Homo sapiens: one gene and its partners. The protein of the gene in region 5 purifies or fractionates together with the protein of the main gene of each other region. This does not show direct contact. Each region holds a gene or a part of one and is shown on either strand. Other genes may lie near its edges.

What was found.
Region 1: the proteins of ALKBH4 (region 5) and ABCA7 purify together in Homo sapiens (affinity purification with mass spectrometry; one large-scale study listed by BioGRID and IntAct). This does not show direct contact.
Region 2: the proteins of ALKBH4 (region 5) and ORC3 purify together in Homo sapiens (affinity purification with mass spectrometry; one large-scale study listed by BioGRID and IntAct). This does not show direct contact.
Region 3: the proteins of ALKBH4 (region 5) and KLHL2 purify together in Homo sapiens (affinity purification with mass spectrometry; one large-scale study listed by BioGRID and IntAct). This does not show direct contact.
Region 4: the proteins of ALKBH4 (region 5) and ORC2 purify together in Homo sapiens (affinity purification with mass spectrometry; one large-scale study listed by BioGRID and IntAct). This does not show direct contact.
Region 6: the proteins of ALKBH4 (region 5) and KLHL24 purify together in Homo sapiens (affinity purification with mass spectrometry; one large-scale study listed by BioGRID and IntAct). This does not show direct contact.

The regions. Positions count from the first base shown.
Region 1 is NC_000019.10:1,050,107-1,053,606, reverse strand, and holds part of ABCA7 (phospholipid-transporting ATPase ABCA7), read right to left. Parts: intron 2,687-3,500; coding exon 2,555-2,686; intron 2,453-2,554; coding exon 2,313-2,452; intron 2,159-2,312; coding exon 2,021-2,158; intron 1,666-2,020; coding exon 1,481-1,665; intron 1,394-1,480; coding exon 1,321-1,393; intron 279-1,320; coding exon 76-278; intron 1-75. UniProt on the Homo sapiens protein: Catalyzes the translocation of specific phospholipids from the cytoplasmic to the extracellular/lumenal leaflet of membrane coupled to the hydrolysis of ATP. Transports preferentially phosphatidylserine over phosphatidylcholine.
Region 2 is NC_000006.12:87,607,135-87,610,634, reverse strand, and holds part of ORC3 (origin recognition complex subunit 3), read right to left. Parts: intron 2,963-3,500; coding exon 2,811-2,962; intron 1,540-2,810; coding exon 1,406-1,539; intron 1-1,405. UniProt on the Homo sapiens protein: Component of the origin recognition complex (ORC) that binds origins of replication. DNA-binding is ATP-dependent. The specific DNA sequences that define origins of replication have not been identified yet.
Region 3 is NC_000004.12:165,308,561-165,312,060, reverse strand, and holds part of KLHL2 (kelch-like protein 2), read right to left. Parts: intron 1,509-3,500; coding exon 1,311-1,508; intron 598-1,310; coding exon 496-597; intron 1-495. UniProt on the Homo sapiens protein: Substrate-specific adapter of a BCR (BTB-CUL3-RBX1) E3 ubiquitin ligase complex that mediates the ubiquitination of target proteins, such as NPTXR, WNK1, WNK3 and WNK4, leading most often to their proteasomal degradation.
Region 4 is NC_000002.12:200,953,661-200,957,160, reverse strand, and holds part of ORC2 (origin recognition complex subunit 2), read left to right. Parts: intron 1-3,500. UniProt on the Homo sapiens protein: Component of the origin recognition complex (ORC) that binds origins of replication. DNA-binding is ATP-dependent. The specific DNA sequences that define origins of replication have not been identified yet.
Region 5 is NC_000007.14:102,455,738-102,458,800, forward strand, and holds the end of ALKBH4 (alpha-ketoglutarate-dependent dioxygenase alkB homolog 4), read right to left. Parts: intron 2,245-3,063; coding exon 1,657-2,244; 3' UTR 501-1,656; downstream 1-500. UniProt on the Homo sapiens protein: Dioxygenase that mediates demethylation of actin monomethylated at 'Lys-84' (K84me1), thereby acting as a regulator of actomyosin-processes.
Region 6 is NC_000003.12:183,670,123-183,673,622, forward strand, and holds part of KLHL24 (kelch-like protein 24), read left to right. Parts: intron 1-911; coding exon 912-1,100; intron 1,101-2,173; coding exon 2,174-2,362; intron 2,363-3,500. UniProt on the Homo sapiens protein: Necessary to maintain the balance between intermediate filament stability and degradation, a process that is essential for skin integrity.

The DNA of each region.
Region 1 (3,500 bases), on a different chromosome or scaffold from region 5:
TTCATCCTTCAAAACACCACCTCCTCCAGGAAGCCCTCCTCCTGGCCCCACCTCACCACCACCCAGGCCTCACACCTCCTCGAGGCTGGTGTCGGAGATCCCGTAGCCAGTGAGCCTCAGCTCCGCCAGCCGCGTGTCTAGCTCTCGGAAGAGTGTGGCGAAGCTGCCGTCATGGGCACCCGTGTAGGGCAGCACCAGCACCAGCTCGTGTGGCAGCTCCTCCACCAGCCGTGCCCCGGGCACCCAGTGCTGTACCAGGGCCAGCAGCTGAGGAGTGCCTGTGTGGACAAAGGGGTGCTTCAGGGAGCCCCGGCTCACGCCCCACCCCAGTCTCCCTGGGGAAGAGGCATTGGTGACCTGTGAGGGGACTGTCCCGGCAGACAGAGATCAGGGTTAAGAACGTAGGCCAGGTGCGGCCGGGCGCAGTGGCTCACGCCTGTAATCCCAGCACTTTGAGGGTTGAAGCAGGCAGATCACCTGAGGTCAGGAGTTTGAGACCAGCCTGACCAACATGGTGAAACCCCATTTCTACCAAAAATGCAAAAATTAGCCAGGCATGGTGGAACCCACCTGTAATCCCAGTTACTCGAGAGGCTGAGGGAGGAGAAATGCTTGAACCCAGGAGGCAGAGGTTGCAGTGAGCTGAGATCACACCACTGCACTACAGCCTGGGCGACAGAGCAAGACTCAGAAACAAACAAAAAGAGATCTTGAGGGCAGTGCTGGACCTAGTGTTGGAGGTCAGGGGTAGGTTTGTCTCTGGGCTCAGCCCTGGTTGGGTTAAAGGTGGGGTCAGTGTTCAAGTTAGTCTCATGGTTCCGGCTCAGCCCAGGGATGGGGGCATCATCTCAGGTTCTCAAGTGCTCTCCTCCTCCTCTCCTTCTCCTCCCCCTCCTCTCCCTCCTCCTCCTCTCCCTCCTACTCCTCCCCCTTCTCCTCCCCCTCCTCTTCCTCCTACTTCTCCCCCTTCTCCTCCCCCTTTCCCTCCCCCTCCTCCTCCCCCTCCTATTCCTCCCCTTCTGCTCCCCTCCTACTCCTCCCCTTCTTCTCCCCCTCCTCCTCTCCCTTCCCCTCCTCCTCCCCCCTTCTCCTCCCCCTCCTCCTCTCCCTCCCCCTCCTCCTCTCCCTCCTACTCCTCCCCTTCGCCTCCCCTTCCACCTCTTACTCCTCCCCCTCCTCCTCCCCCTCCTCCTCCGCCTCAACCTCCTCTGCCGCTTCCTCCCCCTCCTCCTCCTCTTCCCCCTCCCCCTCCTCCTCCTCAAGTTAAGGCACAGCCACCCCACTGCCCACCCGCCTTGGGTCTCCCACCCCGGCCCTCACCGACTCTGCTGCCCTGGCTGCCATTCTTCTTTTCCTGCCTGGTGTCCACACTGCCCTCCATGTCAGTGTCAGCCTGCGGGCAGAGAGGCACCAAGTGGCTTGGCCTTCAGGGCTGAACAGAGTCCCGGGGGTCAGGGGTCAGGAGAAGGCCGGTCCCCACCTTCTCATTGGTGGTCAGGGGCAGGCGGGCCTTCACCAGCGTCAGGTAGTAGCCGGAGCCCAGGTGACGGCGCAGGAAGAGTGGGGAGCCACAGCAGCACAAGCGGCCACCTGCCACCACGGCCACACGGTCTCCCAGCAGCTCTGCCTCATCCAGGTGGTGGGTGGAGAGGATCAGCGTGCGACCTAGGCACGGGGGACCAACCCACAACTACCATCAGGCCGCCGCGTCTTTGCCCGAGCTGGGGCCTCTGCCAGGAGTTGTCTGCCCCATGAAGCAAACTCCTATTCATCCCTCAAAACCTCATCCCCAGAACCTCCTTGTTGGAAACCTTTTCTGGCCCTTCAGGCAGAATCCAGGGGAACCTCTGTCTATCCCCAACTCTTACTGTCTCGGTATTTGAGCAGTAGCCCCTAAATGCCATAGCAACAAGTGGGGTCCACATGTAGCAAACTCCTACTCATTCCTCAAAACCCCATCCCCAGCACTTCCTTGTCAGAAGCCTTTTCTGGCCCCTCGAGCAGAATCCCCAGCTCTTACCTTCTCGGTATTTGAGCAGCAGCTCCCAAATACCGCGGCGGGAAGCAGGATCCACGCCAGCCGTAGGCTCGTCCAGGATAACAACTTGGGAGCCGCCCACAAAGGCAATGGCCACGGACAGCTTCCGTTGCATCCCACCTGGTAGAGATGGGGAAGGGACCTCAGTGTGTCACACCCAGCCTTGGGCAAGGTTGCCTACCCACGTGGACCTCAGTACCCGGCTTCCCCCTGCCTTCAGGATGAATCCCCAGGCCCCTCCCTGTGAGGTGACCTCCCTTGGGGATGGGCTCACCAGAGAGGTGGCGAGTCTGCACACTCTGCTTGGAGACCAGCCCCACATCCTGCAGCAGACGGTCCTGCTCGGGGCCCACTACAGCGGCACTCAGACCCTTCAGCCGCCCATAGAACCAGACGTGCTCGTCCACGGTCAGCCTGCGGCCAGTGCACAGAGCAGAGTGACCCACATGGCAGGCAGAGTCCCAGAGGGCGTCCAGTCCCTTCCCACCGCTGCACTCTGGGCCTGCCGAGACGCACATGTCAAACAGCACGTTGTACTGAGGACAGACGCCCAGGTGGGGCCGGATGGCGGCCATGCTGGAGCGGACGTCGTGGCCCAGGATGAAGGCAGAGCCACCACTGGGTGGGAAGAGGCCACTCAAGATGGACCTGTGGATAGAGGGGTCTCAGAGTAGCCCCCTTCACAGAGTGCACTGGCAGTTACAGAGCTTCTATTTTTAATTTCTGTTTTTAAAAAATTTTTAATTATTTATTATTATTATTATTATTATTATTATTATTATTATTTTTGAGACGGAGTTTCACTCTGTTGCCCAGGCTGGAGTGCAGCGGCACGATCTCGGCTCACTGCAAGCTCCACCTCCCGGGTTCACGCCATTCTCCTGCCTCAGCCTCCCGAGTAGCTGGGACTACAGGCGCCCGCCACCATGTCCGGCTAATTTTTTTGCATTTTTAGTAGAGACGGGGTTTCACTGTTTCACCATGTTAGCCAGGATGATCTCAATCTCCTGACCTCGTGATCCACCCGCCTCGGCCCCCCAAAGTGCTGGGATTGCAGGCCTGAGCCACCACGCCTGGCCACAGAGCACCTATTAAATGCTACATCCAAAACCCTGTGATAGCCTTATTTTTATTTATTTGTTTATTTTTATTTTTTTGTGACAGAGTCTCACTCTGTTGCCCAGGCTGGAGTGCAACGGCACAGTCTCGGCTCACTGCAACCTCCGCCTCCAGGGTTCAAGCAGTTCTCCTGCCTCAGCCTCCTGAGTAGCTGGGATTACAGGTGCACGCCACCATCACACCCGGCTAATTTTTGTATTTTTAGTAGAGATGGTTTTGCCATATTGGCCAGGCTGTGTCTCAAACTCTGACCTCAGGCAATCCTCCCACCTCGGCTTGCCCAAGTGCTGGGATTACAGGCGTGAGCCACCACTCCCGCCCTATTTATTTTGAGACAGGGTCT
Region 2 (3,500 bases), on a different chromosome or scaffold from region 5:
TTGCAGTGAGCCGAGATTGCGCCACTGCAGTCCGCAGTCCGACCTGGGCGACAGAGCGAGACTCCGTCTCAAAAAAAATAAAAAATAAAAAAAAATAAAGTATATTAGTAAATTAGCTGGGTGTGGTGGCTCATGTCTGTAATCCTAGCACTTTGGGAGGCCCCAAAGAGCACTAAGGAAGGCAGATCACCTGAGGTCAGGAGTTTGAGACCAGCCTGGCTAATATGGTGAAACCCTGTCTCTACTAAAAATACAAAAATTAGCTAGGCGTGGCAGCGGGCACCTGTAATCCCAGCTACTTGGGAGGCTGAGGCATGAGAACTGCTTGAACCCGGGAGGCGGAGGTGGCAGGGAGTTGAGAAGGCGCCACTGCACTCCAGCCTGGGGGACAGAGCGAGACTCTGTCTCCAAAAATAAAAATAAAAATAAAGTATACTAGTAAATTATTTAACACAATATATAGCTTTAGGCAAATGTAGCTATAACTATTAAAACAAGTTGACATATAGAAGAGGCCAAAATAAATTCCATCCTAAAAAATACACCAGGGAAAATGCATGTCACTGGATTTTAAAATAAGAGTTCATTATTTCAATTCTGAGTCTCACATGATTGCTTTGAAGACGCAATGCAATCGTGAAAATAGTTTCTCACTAGAAGTATTATATAAATGCAAAATAATGTTATTTAGAAGACACTTTTGCTTAGTAAAACTATATGCAACTCAGAGCATCTAAGGATGGATGGGTATCAGAAAATAAGACCTAATAAAAATCTCAACTTAGCCAGGTATGGTGGCTCACTCCTGTAATCCCAGCACTTTGGGAGGCCGAGGCAGGCAGATCACCTGAGGTCAGGAGTTCGAGAACAGCCTGGCCAACATGGTGAAACTCTGTTTCTACTAAAAATACAAAAATTAGCCAGGTGTGGTGGTGGGCACCTGTAATCCCAGCTACTCAGGAGGCTGAGGCAGAATTGCTTGAACCCAGGAGGCGGAGGCTGCAGTGAGCCGAGATCGTACCACTGCACTCCAGCCTGGGCAACAGAACAAAGCTCCATCTCAAAAAAAAAAAAGAAAAAAACAAAAACAACAAACTCAACCTGGAGTAGTTTATCTATTTAATGGGTGAGTAAGAGACAGTCAATCTTGGTGAGAAAAACCATATTTAATACTATCTTACCATGTCAATTTAAAACTGGCTAAATGTGCCTTTGATTCTCATTCTTGGCTCAAAAAGCAAATGGAAAATCTGATAGGAAGTCTTTGAATATTCAATTATAAAGAATTTGAATACTTTGATTTTTATCCAGTTGGTATTAAAATGAAGATTATACTTTTCAAGTTAAAAGTAGTATTTTCTTAAAAAGGGAGTTTTTCATAAAAGCCAGGTAATACACCATCTACCTGCTGATAATTATGAAGTCTTGTAGTACTTTTGTGGCAAAGCTTTCCATATCCTTCAAGATAACGACAACAGGAGGAGACTGCCATTGGCTAGAAGTAGTCCTTTTTTTGCTTAGCATTTTTGGGTCCGTCTTCTTTTAAGCCATTGCAGAAAGAAAGAGTTAAAGGTAAGCCTTACCACTCAAACAATGTTATAATGCCACATGTTGACATATCTCTCTTTAAATTTCACAATAACACTGTTTATTTTTTTTCTACCACACGATAAATAGAAACTCAGGTTACTAGAATCTTGCTGTGTCTGACATGGGAATAATAACCAAGAAGAAAAAGGTTCAGTAAAAATCTATAACTCATATGAAATATTTATATTTTCTGCTAAGGAAATGACAGAAAAAAACATGGAAGAGGAAATTTTCTACAAAATTGATTTTTCTGTTGGTAGAAAGTTATATTCTGCTTTGCTTTATAGTGAGAACTAGTATTTTTAATGAAAAAAATATAATGAATAGTAGTGCTTGCTACTCTGCCACTGTGAAATTTCAAGCCTGAAATGGATACTAGGTATCATCTGGTCCAATCTCAATTTTTAAAAAGATATCTGACATAAACCAAAAGTAGCATTTTATCTGGAAAGTCTAAAATTGTGGAGCAAATCAGGTATTATGGTAAGTATTAGACGTAGTTTAGTCCCTATATAAAGCAAAATGAAACTTCACTTACGATGATTTCAGCAAAAATGTTGATTGGAAAATGTAACCACAGTATTTTTTTTCCCATACTGTCTGGCTACACAGCACCATAACCTAAGACTATGGTTTTATGACGCAATTACCTAGTGTTAACCTAGGTTATTATTTTTCACCAGACTGTCATGGTAGAATGGAACTTCTTTTTACTTATCTGTTTGTCTAACATACTTTACTTAAAGAACACTGATTCCCTAAGAACTCTAAACATAAAACAAATTAGACTTTAGAAAATACATGATTATTCTTCATTGAACTAAGTTGACAGTGGATACTAGCAGCATGGTTCTATTGGACAAAGCAAACATTGAGGAACATAAGAGATAATATACTAAAGTTATAGTTACTGTCACAGAGATGGAACATGCAACAGAAGCAATTCCTGATGCTCTGTTTTTGTCATTAGAGGACATTCTCCAACAAATAATATGTCCTTGTAAAAACCTAAGCACTTACCTGGAATTAGGCTGCATACTAATAAAAGAACATTTTAAAATTCGAGTAGCATTAGAAAAAATAAATACCTACTTTTAAATTAACACCTAGTGCTGCAGAAACATATCCTTGTTAGATCAAAACAGTACTGTCTAATATTATTCCAAGCCACATCAATCATACGTCAATTTCCTGGGAGAAAATCATCAGTTTATATCTACCTGTGTGACAGTCATATACCAACTGGAAAGTGAATCCATTGAATAATGTGTCTTTCTTTGGGTGACGTGAACACTTTCCTCCTCTTTGGATTTTATATCTACACAGCAGTCCATCAACTGTGAGATCAACTTTTGCAAAAAATGTTTCATATCTGTGGAATATAAAAAGTAAGAAAGCTTATCTCTGCCTCTTCTAAAAATAAAACCAAAGCTCTTGAAACTTCTTGCTGAGTGTATTACTTTTTTTTTTGGTAGAATGTGTTTTTTTATACTTACCATCAATACAGCTAATGTAACATTTAACATATTAACTACTGATGCTCATTAGTACCTTCATTAATTCAGACTAAGACTAAACCAAAGCTTATGTATATTATCTTTATTTTTTTTTTTTGAGATGGAGTCTCGCTCTGTTGCCCAGGCTGGAGTACAGTGGCAGGATCTCGGCTCAATACAACCTCTGCCTCCCGGGTTCAAGCAATTCTCCTGCCTCAAGCCTCCCCAGTAGCTGGGATTACAGGCGCGTGCCACCATACCCAGCTAATTTTTGTATTTTTTAGTAGAGACGGGGTTTTGCCATGTTGGCCAGGCTGGTCTCGAACTCCTCACCTCATGATCTGCCTGCCTCAGCCTCCCAAAGTGCTGGGATTACAAGCATCAAACACTGCTCCCAGCCATTTATGTATATTA
Region 3 (3,500 bases), on a different chromosome or scaffold from region 5:
CCTAGGTTGTGCACTCCTTATGACACTCTAATGCCTGATGATCTGAGGTGGGAACAGTTTCATCCCAAAACCATCCCCCCAACCCACCCCTGTCCATGGAAAAATTGTCTTCCACAAAACCAGTCCCTAGTGCCAAAAAGGTTGGGGACTGCTGTTATATAAGTCAAACACACACGTGTTATATAAGTCAAACACACACAGTTATATAAGTCAAACACACACACACACACACACACACACACACACACACAGAGAGAAAGGAGGAGGGATAAAGGGAGGGGGATAGAGAGGGAGAGAAAAGGCTTTATATAGGTTGATTTATATAGAGAAGCTAATTTTAAAAAGAGGATAACTGAAATTTTACAGTAATTACGACTTTTCTTTTTAAAATGATAATTAGCTTGCCCATTCAGAAAACTAAAGTTGAGATTACTGGAAGAACCACTCTCAAGGATCAAAATGCCACATGTACCTGAAAGAACTGTCAACACCTACCTCCAACAACACCCACACCAACACTGCTCCTCCTTGTATTCATGGGAGCTACATGAAACCACTCATTAGACTTTATGTTGTATGCTTCCACAGATGACAAACCTATAATAAAGCACAATAGTCTTCATTTCCTTCTCTAAAAAATGTCAATAGTTCATATATATGGAAAAATACTTCAGGTATGTTATACTGGGCTAAAATTAAGAGAAGAAAATGGTGGAACATAAACACAGCAATTACATGAAAAACAGGTACAGCTTGTTTTCCAGAAGGCTCCTACCTAAGCTACTGATATTTATAAGCTTTTAAAATTTGATGACTGATACTGATGCATAAGAAAGAAAATTTATATACTCACCACTCATATCATTTAAGGAAATTCTTGATAAAATTTTAAACTTATCTTTAAATACCAGTTAAAACCTCACATGTTGTAATCCCAGCACTTTGGGAGGCCGAGGTGGGCGGATCACAAAGTCAGGAGATTGAGACCATCCTGGCTAACATGGTGAAACCCCGTCTCTACTAAAAAATACAAAAAAAATTAGCCGGGCGTGGTGGCGGGCACCTATAGTCCCAGCTGCTCGGGAGGCTGAGGCAGGAGAATGGCATGAACCCGGCAGGCGGAGCTTGCAGTGAGCCGAGATTGCGCCACTGTACTCCAGCCTGGGCGACGGAGCAAGACTCCATCTCAAAAAAAAAAAAAAAAACACAAAAAACCTCACATGTGCCCTAATGTTGCCACAATTTATTCCATAAACATGACTACTACGTTAATTTTAGCAGCAATGTAGAATAAATGAAAAGGAAATTACCTGTACTCCCATCAAAGCCTCCCACAGCGTATAATAATCCATTTAACACAGCAGCTCCCAAAGTGCTTCTCCGGTCTCTCATGTTAGCAACGCTGGTCCACTGGTCCTTCACAGGGTCGTAGGAATCTACAGTGCGAACTCTTAATGAGCCATTAAAGCCACCAACAGCAAAAACAAGTCCAGCCATGTAGACCATGCCTGCAAAAGGAGTACAGCATTTAATGATCAACATGCAACTCAACTACCACCAATATCCAAAGATTGCTTTCTGATAAATCTATAGCTGTTGTCAGAACATGCTACTCTTAGGAGGAGCCTGATTAAATAAATCCTTGAAAATGCTATTCATTTGCAAGAACATCCAATCACTAAATTGTCTTTCTTTCTAAGGTTATTATTATTATTATTTCTTCCTTTCTTTATTTTGAGACGGAGTCTCACTCTGTCGCCCAGGCTGGAGTGCAGTGGCGCCATCTCAGCTCACTGCAAGCTCAGCCTCCCGTGTTCACACCATTCTCCTGCCTCAGCCTCCTGAGTAGCTGGGACTACAGGCGCCCGCCACCACACCCAACTAATTTTTTGTATTTTTAGTAGAGATGGGGTTTCACTGTGGTCTTGATCTCCTGACCTCGTGATCTGCCCGCCTTGGCCTCCCAAACTGCTGGGATTACAAGCGTGAGCCACTGCACCTGGCCTTCTTTCTAAGGTTATTAAAAAATGCAATGGCATGGGCTAAAGTACCATGTTGACTCTTGGTTTTTTTAAATATCAATTTACAAGCTTAAATAATGAGCCATTATTTTCCAACTACTTGAACCTGTACTCACCTCCCATAGCTTTCAATTTTGGATCTTCTAGTGGATATTCTTAGAATGAAACTCCATACGCTTATAATTTATTTGCATAACGTATTCCTAGTTTATCATGTTAGTGGGCTAAATCAGGGGTCGGCAAATTTACAGCTACAGGCTAAATTTGGTCCAGCGAACTATTTCTGTAGAACCCATAAGCTAAGCATGGTTTTTATATTTTTAAATGGCTGAAAAACAACCAAAAGAGGAATAATATTTCATGACATGTAAAAAGCTATATGAAATTCAAATTTCACCATCCATAAATATAGTTTTATTGGAACACTGCCACACTCATTCATTTACATATGGCTGGTTTTGCACTATAGCAGTAGATAAGAAGCTGTGACAGAGACCATATAACCACAAAGCCTAAAATACTTATTCTCTGGTCCTTCAAGAGAAAGTCTGCTGATCCTTGGGCTAAAGAGATATTACGGAATCAGTGAATGGAGAAACTAGACTGCTAGACTCAGGTTTCAACCATCTTTTCACTTTTCTCAACTTTTTTCATGCTGCTGTCCTAATCGGACAGGCTCCTATCACCATCTACTCTGTTCTCTTTAACTCTGAATCCTCAGTTAAAGTTCCACATTCTCTATGATGCCTTCCCTGTCCACTTTAGCCTAAAAGGGATTATGTCCAGCTCCCGAACCCTATAGCAAATAACATCTATGTTGTGTACTTCAGGTTTAATAAATGTACCGTCTATAATATAATTACTTTAAATTGTTCAAATTTTTATTGTTCTTAGTTCTATAATGTTTATGTCCCTGTGCCAGCCTGAGGGCAGGCAATGTGGCTCACAGTTCTCTGAATCCCTGTAGGGAGAACTGGAATCACCAGATATGTTTGACGAGCTCAATGTTTTGCAGATGTTATCAGGCAAGAGATGTACCTCTGCCCCTTACTGTCTTAACCTCTGGTGCTTTATTCCCCCACCCCTGTAAAAATACACGGAAATGCAGTCCTCCATATGGCAACAAGACCTTTCCAGTTCAGATGAAGTTGCCTGTTTTGGCCCCCTGCTAGCACAGAATTTAACAGACATCCTAAGAGGGCCTGGAGACTCGTGAGCAGCAACATACCAGGCAGCATGTTTCAGCATGAAACAATCCTGTATCCCAAAATCATAACTAACTCCAGGGAATGTTCATTGTGGGAATCTTGCCCATTGCAATTTTCATTTTCCTTTCTCTACCCACAAAATAACACTACAAATATGCCATCTCTTAGAAGTAACATAGTATGCTTACCAAGGTTTAGAGAATTTTAGGTCACAGAGAGGAAGAAAATAAATGAATCAATCTATGAAGTGCCCCCTACCAAAGGCTCTGGG
Region 4 (3,500 bases), on a different chromosome or scaffold from region 5:
TTTCCAGGATACATGTGTACAATGTGCAGGCTTGTTACATAGGTATACATGTGCCATGGTGGTTTGCTGCACCTTTCAACCCATCATCTAGGTTTTAAGCCCCACATGCATTAGCTGTCTGTCCTTATGCTCTCCCTCCCTCCACCCACCCGCAGGCTGTGGCATATGTTGTTCCCCTCCCTGTGTCCATGTGTTCTCATTTTTCAACTCCCACCTATGAGTGAGAATATGCAGTGTGTGGTTTTCTGTTCCTGTGTTAGTTTGCTGAGGATGATGACTTCTAGCTTCATACATGTCCCTGCAAAGGACATGATCTCATTCCTTTTATGGCTGCATAGTACTCCTAAAGTTATTTTCAAGATTATTTATTTATTTATTTATTTATTTTAGAGACAGGGTCTTGCTCAGTCACCCAGATTGGGATGCCATGGCACAATCATAGCTCATTGTAGCCTCCAACTTCTGGGTTCAGGAGATCCTCCCAACTTAGCCACCTGAGTAGCTAGTACTATTTTTAAGGTATTTATTTATGGCCAGACATGGTGGCTCACGCCTGTGATCCCAGTACATTGGGAGACTGAGGCAGGAGGACTGCTTGAGCCCAGGAGTTTGTAACCATCCTAGGCAACATAGTAAGATCCCGTTTCTACAAAAAAAAAAAGTTTTTAATTAGCTGGAAGCTGGGTGTGTGATGGCTCATGCCTGTAATCTCAGCATATTGGGAGACCAAAGCAGATTGATCGCTTGAGTCCAGGAGTTTGAGACTAGCCTGGCATGGTGGCACACACCTGTGGTCCCAGCTATGAGTGAGGCTGAGGTGGGAGGATCACTTGAGCCTGGGAGGTTGAGGCAGCAGTGAGCCGTGATCATACCACTACACTCCAGCCTGGGCAACAGAGTGAGACCCTGTCTCAAAAAAAAAATAAAACTAGCTGAGCATGGTGGCGTGTGCCTGTAGTCCTAGTTACTTGGGAGGCTAACGCAGAGGATTGCTTGAGCCCAGGAGGTTGAGGCTACAGTGAGCTGTGATTGCATCACTATACTCAGCCTGGGTGACAAAGCGAGACCCTAGGTCAAAACAGAACAAAAAAAAGATATTTATATTTTTAACTTATTTAAAATACCTTTCTAAAGCAAGTTACTTTATTCTTACCTTGATCTTTACAGAACTAGGAGGAGCATTTCAAGAAGTAGTGTTCTAACCCAGGGATGCTGGTATTATGTGTGTGGTTTTAATTTTTACATCTAAGCCAGATTCCTGCAAGATTATTCTTAACATAAAACATTTTTTTAGGTTCGAATTATATTTTAGTTAGGTTTTTCCTGGGTACAAGGAACACAGATCCCCACAACCTAGCTTAAAAAAATAATGACAAAGGAAAGAAATCAATATTGTTGGGTACTAGGAGAGTTGGAACTGGGACAGTGTTAAAAACTGAGGAACTGTGCTTTCATGAGTCTCCAGGTCTCCCTGTGTCATCTCTGTGCATCTGTTCTGATTTCTCTATGCCACATATTTTCTTCATGTACATGTGTTTTATTCTCACATACTTATAAATGTCCATCAAGTTCCCAGTGTTAAGTGATTTGGTTTTTCAGTTCTCCCATTCTAGATTCTCAAGAGTCAATTTAGCTCAATTCATTTTTAAAATCTGGACATAGAAATAGCATATAATTGGAATATCCACAGATGAATCACAGTTGAGTTATCTGTGCCTATTACTTATTATATTAATGAACATAATTACATAGTTCATTAACTATGGGGGTAGAGTCATATACTCCATGTATAGAGTTATACAAAAAATGACCACTGCTCCTCAATAGATTTAGTGGGCTGGGTAGGGTCTCCTATGTGTCCACAGCTAGACAGTTGACATTTTTTGAGCATATTCTAAATAAAACTTGGTGTTCTTGACTCCCTATTATGCCAGGCCTAAGAAGAGATTGATAACAGTATTCCACAAAGGAAACTTTTATCATAAAAATTGTCTCTTAAAAAAGTAGTATGTTTGTTGTAGAAATTCAGTGCTTCCAACCTTTCTCACATAACAGCACTCACAGCAAATGATATTTGGAGGCACAATGGAATAAATAGAAGAGGATGCTGCAGACCAAGGACAAATACCCCAGGGCCCTAACCCTACCCCTGCTACTGGCCTTGATTGGCATCCTCAAAGGCCTGAGAGAATCAGTACTCAGCACATATGAAACCCATACCATTTATTTATTTATTTATTTATTTATTTATTTATTCATTCATTCATTCATTCATTCCTCACACTGGGGAACTTTGCCTTATTTTTTGGCATCATGCCCTATGTTTTTCAACCTTTTTAAAATTATTGACCCCTAATTAGCCTTTTTAGACATTTTCTCCTAATCACTTTTTCCCACCCTAAAAATTTCAGTACTACATATATGCTGTATATCTGTTTATGTACTGTGACGCTTTGGAGGGCCACAGACTATTATATTAATAATGTCAAAGTCTTTTTTCCACACTCCCTCCTGTGCCAAGATCCAGTTTTACCCAATTGGGAGATGTATTGTACCTGTCAAGAATGCCTGCTTTAGAGAACGTGGAACCGTTAACATTTCAGTGTGTATCTTCTGTCTGTTCATACATGCATGGGCACACATAAGCTTGCACCATTACGTTTATAAATAGACTTTTTGCAATTAATAATGTATCATATATACATTACTCTGTCATTAGACATTCTTCTACAATAAGAGTTTTGACATGTATTGCCAAATATCCTCCTAAAGTTTATACAGATTACACTATTTAATCATAGTTACATTTTCCTAAAGACTTAGTTTTGGCCAGGTGCAGTGGCTCATGCCTGTAATCTCAGCACTTTGGGAGGCCAAGGCGGGTGGATCGCCTGAGGACGGGAATTCAAGACCAGCCTGGCCAACATGGCGAAACCGTGTCTCTACTAAAAATACAAAAAATTAGCTGGGCGTGGTGGTGGGTGCCTGTAATCTCAGCTACTCGGGAGGCTGAGGCAGGAAAATCGCTTGAACCCGGGAGATGGAGGTTGCAATGAGCCAAGGTCACACCATTGCACTTCAGCCTGGGCAACAAGAGTGAAAATCCATCTCAAAAAAAAAAAAAGAAAAAGAAAGAAAGAAATCCCAAATCCCATCTCTACAAAAAACATACAAAAATTAGCTGGGCGTGGTGGCATGCACCTGTAGTCCTAGCTGCTCAGAAGGCTGAAGTGGGAGGATCACTGGAGCCCAGGAGGTTGAGGCTGCAGTGAGCCACAATCACACCATTGCACACTAGCATGGGTGACAGAGCAAGAATTTATCTCATACACACACAAAAAAGCTTAGCATCTGAACCATTTTTAAAGTGTATGGGTTCAGTGGCATTAGGTACATTCACACCATTTGTAACCAATCTCCCAAACTTTTCTCATTGTACAAAACTGAAATTTATTCATCTGTAGATGGACACTTGGGTTGCTTCAACCTTTTGGGTATTG
Region 5 (3,063 bases):
GCCGGGCTCTGTGCTCTTGCTCCAAGTGAGTTGACCAGGGAGCCGAAGTTAAGGTGGCCTGGGAGCCACGTCCTCCCACCTAGCGGCTGGGCTCTCACAGCCACTAGAAACCCATCAGCCTTTCCCCTGGGTCTATGCGGGGCTCTTCAGCCCTCCTGGGAGCTCAGTGGCTGGGATGCTGCTTTACAGACAGTGCACGGCTCTGCCATCTGACAGCTCCCAGAGGGTTCTGGGGGTGACTGTAAAGAGTGGTGCTGGCCCCGAACCTTTCCTGTTCCCCTGGATTTAGTTCCCAGCAGGTGGTGAGGAACTGAACATTTTGTCCCATAGTGGTGGGAGAGAGGGCTGGCCACATGGGTCCAGGCCACCCCCTCAGCCTCCACAGCCTGCCCCGCACCCAGCCACAGGAACAGCAGAGCAGCTCCCCCATCCAGGTAAGCGCCCCCACCACAGCCCCATCACAAAGGAATAGCCTCCTGGTGTAGTGGGAGGTGAGGAGCTTTTTTTGTTTTCCTTTTATTTATTTTAGGGACAGGGTCTTGCTCTGTTGCCAAGTTAAGTGCAGTGGTATGATCATGAGCTCACTGCAGCCTTGACATGGTGGTAAAGCCATCCTCCCGCCTCAGCCTTTCGAGTAGCTGGGACTACAGGTGTGTGCCACCATGCCCAGACGCCCAGCTAATGTTTGTATTTTTTGTAGAGATGGGGGTCTCACTATGTTGCCCAGGCTGGCCTCAAGCAATCCTCCCACCTGAGCCCCGCAAAGTACTCGGATTACAGGTGTGAGTCACCGCGCCTGGCCGGGAGCTTTAATTTTTCCTACTTGTTAACAGCGTTATGGGGCTGGAAGGAGGCTCTCAGATTTCCCTGCCCTCCTCACATCCCCCAACCCTCCCTGGGCGTGGGGGTGTCAAGCATGAGTCAGGCTGAGCCTGACTCTGAAGCTGTTCCCAGCTCTTTAGTCTAAACTTCAAATCTTCAACCCTGTTCCCTAATCCAACACATTCCCCAAATGAAGGGACTGGACAGTGAGATATCGGGAAACCCCATGAAAATAGATGCATAATAAAGGTGAAAATCATTTAAAATGTTCCCATTTTTTTTTTTTTTCAAAACAGTCTTGCTCTGTCACCGAGGCTGGAGTGCAGTGGCGTGATCTTGGCTCACTGCAACCTCCGCCTCCCAGGTTCAAGCAATTCTCCCACCTTAGCCTCCCGAGTAGCTGGGATTACGGCTGTGAGTCACCACACCCGGCTAATTTTTGTAGTTTTTGTAGAGACGGGTTTTCACCGTGTTGGCCAGGCTGGTCTCGAACTCCTGGCATCAAGTGATCCGCCCACCTCAGCCTCCCAAAGTGTTAGGATTACAGGTGTGAGCCACTGTGCCCGGCCCCCAGTATTTTTTAAGCTCAAATGATCCCATGTCCCCAAGACTGTGACAAACTAAATAACCAAAAAAGTGTGGCCACGGTCCAGGTGGAAGGGGGCTGCCTGGAGGTACGTTCCCATCAAAACCTGCTCCTGGGCAGGGCTCACACTGCTCACAGCATCAGGGGTCAGCCATCTTCTCTTGAAACCCCGTGAGTTGCAGGAGGCCCTGTTCTGTGCTCCTCATTTCAATCCCGGGATCAGTCAAGTCTGGAGCCAAGGAGGCGGTTCACACGGGTCTTCCCTGGAAGGAGAGGGCGATCCGCAGCAGTTCCTGGCCCAGCTCTTGCTGCCTCCCTCCAGGGCCAAACTCAGCCGACAGCTCCCGGAAAGTGACGCAGACGCGGCGGGCCTCGATGTGTCTGCGGTGGATGGCATGCTTCCACTGGTGCCGTGCCGCCCCGGTGAGGACCAGCAGGGAGCGGGCGGGTAAGGGGATGGCCACCTCCACCTCCTGGCATAGCACCGACCGGCTGGGTGCTATCACGCTGTCCACCAAGGCCTCCGGGGCAGCCGACGGGGCCGAGCAGAGGAGCAGGCTCCCGGGCGCCTCCCGACACATGGACAGCACGGTGGGGGACAGGAGGTTGAGGCTGACCAGCCGCTCCCCCCACAGCCAGGCGTCGTCCAGGTGGGGGTCAATGGCAGAGCCCCGCTCGGGGCAGTAGTCCAGGTTGCACTGCTCGACGGGCCGGAAGCCCTCCAGCCCCGGGTAGAGGCCCATCCTCCGCACCACCTCCCGGCTGAAGCTGGGGAGGCCGCAGAAGCCCTCGGTCTTTAGCTTCTGTTTCCGAAAGTTGACTTTGGGGCCATAGTCCTGAAGGATGAAGACAAAGAGGACATGAGGTGTCTGAGTTTACGAAGATGTCTACCACAGACTAGGTGGGAAGAATTCAGTCATAGTGACCCAGGCAAGCAAAAGCCCCCTGGCTTCATGGAGGTGAAGCAGGAGGAGGCAGACTCAAGGAGACAGAAGTGACAGCAAATGGCCGGGCATGGTGGTGCATGCCTGTAATCCCAGCGCTTTGGAAGGCTGAGGCGGAGGGAGCTCTTGAGGCCAGGAGTTTGAGACCAGTCTGGGCAACAAAGTGAGACCTCCTCTCTACAAGAAATTTAAAAATTAGGCTGGGCATGGTGGCTCACGCCTATCATCCTAACACTTTGGGAGGCCCAGGCAGGTGGATCGTTTGAGCCCAGGAGTTCCAGACCAGCCTGGGCAACACAGCAAAACTCTGTCTCTAGTAACAAAACAAAAATTAGACAGATGTGGTGGCACAGGCCTTAGTTCCAGCTACTTAGGAGGCTGAGGTGAGAGGACTGTTGGAGCTCAGGAGGTTGAGGCTGCGGTGAGTGGAGACTGAGCCACCGTACTCCAGCTTGGGAGACAGAATGAGACACCCTGTCTCAAAATAATAATAATAATAATTATCTGGGCTTGGTGGCACATGCCTTAGTTTCAGCTACTCAGGAGGCTGAGGTAGGAGGATCGCTAGAGCCTGGGGGGTCAAGGCTGCGGTGAGCCAATATCACATATTGCACTCCAGTCTGGGCGACAGAGCGAGACCCTGTCTCAAAAAAAAAAAAAAAACCTGTACACAAATGTTCACAACAGCCAAAAAGTGACAACAACGCCAAT
Region 6 (3,500 bases), on a different chromosome or scaffold from region 5:
GGTGTGGTGATACACACCTGTGGTTTCAGCTACTTGGGAGGCTGAGGTGAGAGGATTACTTGAACCTCGGAGGTTGAGGCTGTAGTGAGCTGTGATCATGCCACTGCACTCCAGCCTGAGCAACAGAATGAGACCCATCTCCAAAAAAAGAAAAAGAGAGAGAGAGAAACGTGGATGTTAAGCTGCTGGAGAGCTTTGTTAGGTTGAAAGTTCCCTATATAAACCATGGATTTTTTGCATATAAGCCATTTAATAAATATCTTACTGATTGGTTCACCTGTCATATAAAGATACTAATTTGCCCTACCTTTCTCTTATTTGTGAAAAGAAAATGTACATAAAAGCTCTGTGAACTTTAAAGTTCATTTTGTGTCAAGTACTTTTCTAGGTATTGTACGGACTAAAAGAAAGGCCTGACCAGCACTCTCATAGTCTAGTAATTCTTTCCTAATATTTTAGTTTCACAGCTCTAATACTTTATAATAATCAAATATTTCATTACCCATAAGTGTGAATATTTAAGCTAAATTGTACCATTCTCAGTGTGAGCAGTATTACCCCCAAGGGGGCAAAGATTGTTTCTTAGAAGATGAAAAAAAATGTACCCTTTCTTGTGTAAAGAACAGATATACATACATTAAGGTAAATAGATACACAATTTCTCTGTGGTATTACAATTTTATTGAGGGAAGACTATTAGGAAGAAAATACCTAAAAAGGCTCCGTGGATTGTGATGGTGGTAGGGGATGATGATTTTTTAAAAGGTTCAGAAACTCTGAGCTAAATATATTGCAATTATATTTATTTAGCAAGGGCATTTTAAAGAGAAGAGATCCCTTAATTCTTTAGCCAACTACTTCAAAATTCAGACTTTTGATAATTAAGATTTTTCCATGTATTTTACATATAGGTATATGTTGTCGGTGGCTATGATGGGCAAAACAGACTTAGCAGCGTAGAATGTTATGATTCCTTTTCAAATCGATGGACTGAAGTTGCTCCCCTTAAGGAAGCCGTGAGTTCTCCTGCAGTGACTAGCTGTGTAGGCAAACTGTTTGTGATTGGTGGAGGACCTGATGATAATACTTGTTCTGATAAGGTAAGCCATGCACTTTTAAAGAAATTACCAATATTAAGTACAAGAAGGGAAATACAGAAGGCTTATCAAGTAGGTAGCCAGGTCACATAGTGTGAGGGGTCTTTTAAAAATTTTCTGGTACTATATGCTTTTGGAGAAAAACATTGAATTCTGGGTTGCTAAAGTGAGACTCTAGTATATCTAACAATTTGCTCTAACAAATGTGATCCAATCTTTTTGAAATGAGACTATCTGTGTAGAAGTTTTCTACTAAATAAATTGTTCTGAGCCTTTGCTGTCATCTACAAAATCTAAAAACTATTTATACAAAACACAGTTGAGAAGTGAATTAGCAAAGGGTAAGACATAGTAACTAAATATGCTGCTTCCAACTGGGTCATTTTCTACATACTTTTGAAGTATTTTTCAGAAAAAAGGAAAGGAAACCTCCTTAGTGTAAATAGAGGATGGCTCAAAGTTGTTCCGGTTCAGTAAACTTCTGGGACGAAAGAATATGTGCTATCCTGACATCTCAGGAAATGTTTATTCTGGAAAAAAGCATCTAATGCCTAGCTGGTTTAGCACTGTTAACTGAATTTTGTCAGTCTATTAATTCTTTTTCTAAATTCAGTTTAAAATAATGTGATCAAATGTTACTTATTTAGAATTTGTTATTTCAGAATTTGTGATAATTCAGAGCATACTGATTGAATTGAGGTTTACTTGTTTTCTTTTGAAGAAAGGACTCCCTAAAAGCATTAAGAAGTTATATTCAGATGTGAGGCATAGTTATCCTACATAACACAATTGTGAAAAGATTTAGACTGTTAATTTTAGTGGACAAACCTGGTGGCCATTCATTCTAGAAACAATCTGTGTGTTTGGTACTCTATTCTGCTTGATAGTAATAAATTTGCATTTTATTTGAGAATGTTCGTAATTCAGACATTTCACTATCAGGCTAACCTCTCTTAATTCTCTGAATTAATAGGATTTTATTTTAAATAATGTTTGTAGGTATTGGTAGATTCTTTATTAAGTACATTTCCATTTTTGTTTAGAAATTTTAATTATATATTTTTATATGTTATTAGGTTCAATCTTATGATCCAGAAACCAATTCTTGGCTACTTCGTGCAGCTATCCCAATTGCCAAAAGGTGTATAACAGCTGTATCCCTAAACAACCTGATCTATGTTGCCGGTGGACTGACCAAGGCAATATACTGTTACGATCCAGTTGAAGATTACTGGATGCACGTACAGAATACATTCAGCCGTCAGGTAATAACATAAAGCAGTACAAAAGAAAAATAAATCTAAGAGGGACCAAGTACATAATCATTATTAATACACTGGAATTTCAATTTTAAAATATTTCAGGCTGGGCGTGGTGGCTCACGCCTGTAATCCCAGCACTTTGGGAGGCCGAGGTGGATAGATCACTTGAGGTCAGGAGTTCAAGACCAGCCTGGCTAATATGGTGAAACCCCGTCTCTACTAAAAAATTATGGCCAGGCGTGGTGGTTCATGCCTGTAATCCCAGCACTTTGGGAGGCTGAGGCAGGCCAATCACCTGAGGTCGGGAGTTCGAGACCAGCCTGACCAACATGGAGAAACCCCGTCTCTGCTAAAAATACAAAATTAGCTGGGCGTGGTGGCGCATTGCCTGTAATCCCAGCTACTAGGGAGGCTGCGGCAGGAGAATTGCTTGAACCCGGGAGGTGGAGGTCGCGGTGAGCCGAGATCGAGCCATTGCACTCCAGCCTGGACAGCAAGAGCGAAACTCCGTCTCAAAAATAAATAAATAAATAAAAATAAAATAAAATAAAATAAAACAAAATAAAATAAAAAATTAGCTGGGTTTGGTGGCACACGCCTGTAATCCCAGCTGCTCAGGAGGTTGAGGCGGGAGAATCACTTGAATCTGGGAGGCAGAGGTTGCAGTGAGCCGAGATCATGCCACTTGCACTCCAGCCTGGGCAACAGAGTGAGACTCCGTCTCAAAAAAGTAAATAAATAAGTAAAATAAAATATTTCATGTTTGCTTGAATTATTTTATATATTTTTCAAAACTCCACATAAAGCATATGGCAACCTGTTTTGAACTCCTTCCAAGGGGTCATTTTATTGAAATAACTTCCTTTTTACCATCCCATGGAGAAGTATCTGTTACACTTGGGCTGTTCTTTTTTTTTTCTCTTGACTTTTTTCACAATCCTACTCCAGTATTTATCCCCTCTCTTTCATATTTCAGAAGAGAGGAATGTTCCCAAACTTGTTGTTTCTTTGGTTAGAGGCTGGGAAATCTGTTATTTCTGTTGTAAAGGAAATGGCTGTGCTCACCTTTCTTTCATCCATGTATTCTAACCGGAGCCCTACTCCCTACCCACACTGCCACCTCCCAAAAGGCCTTTTCCCC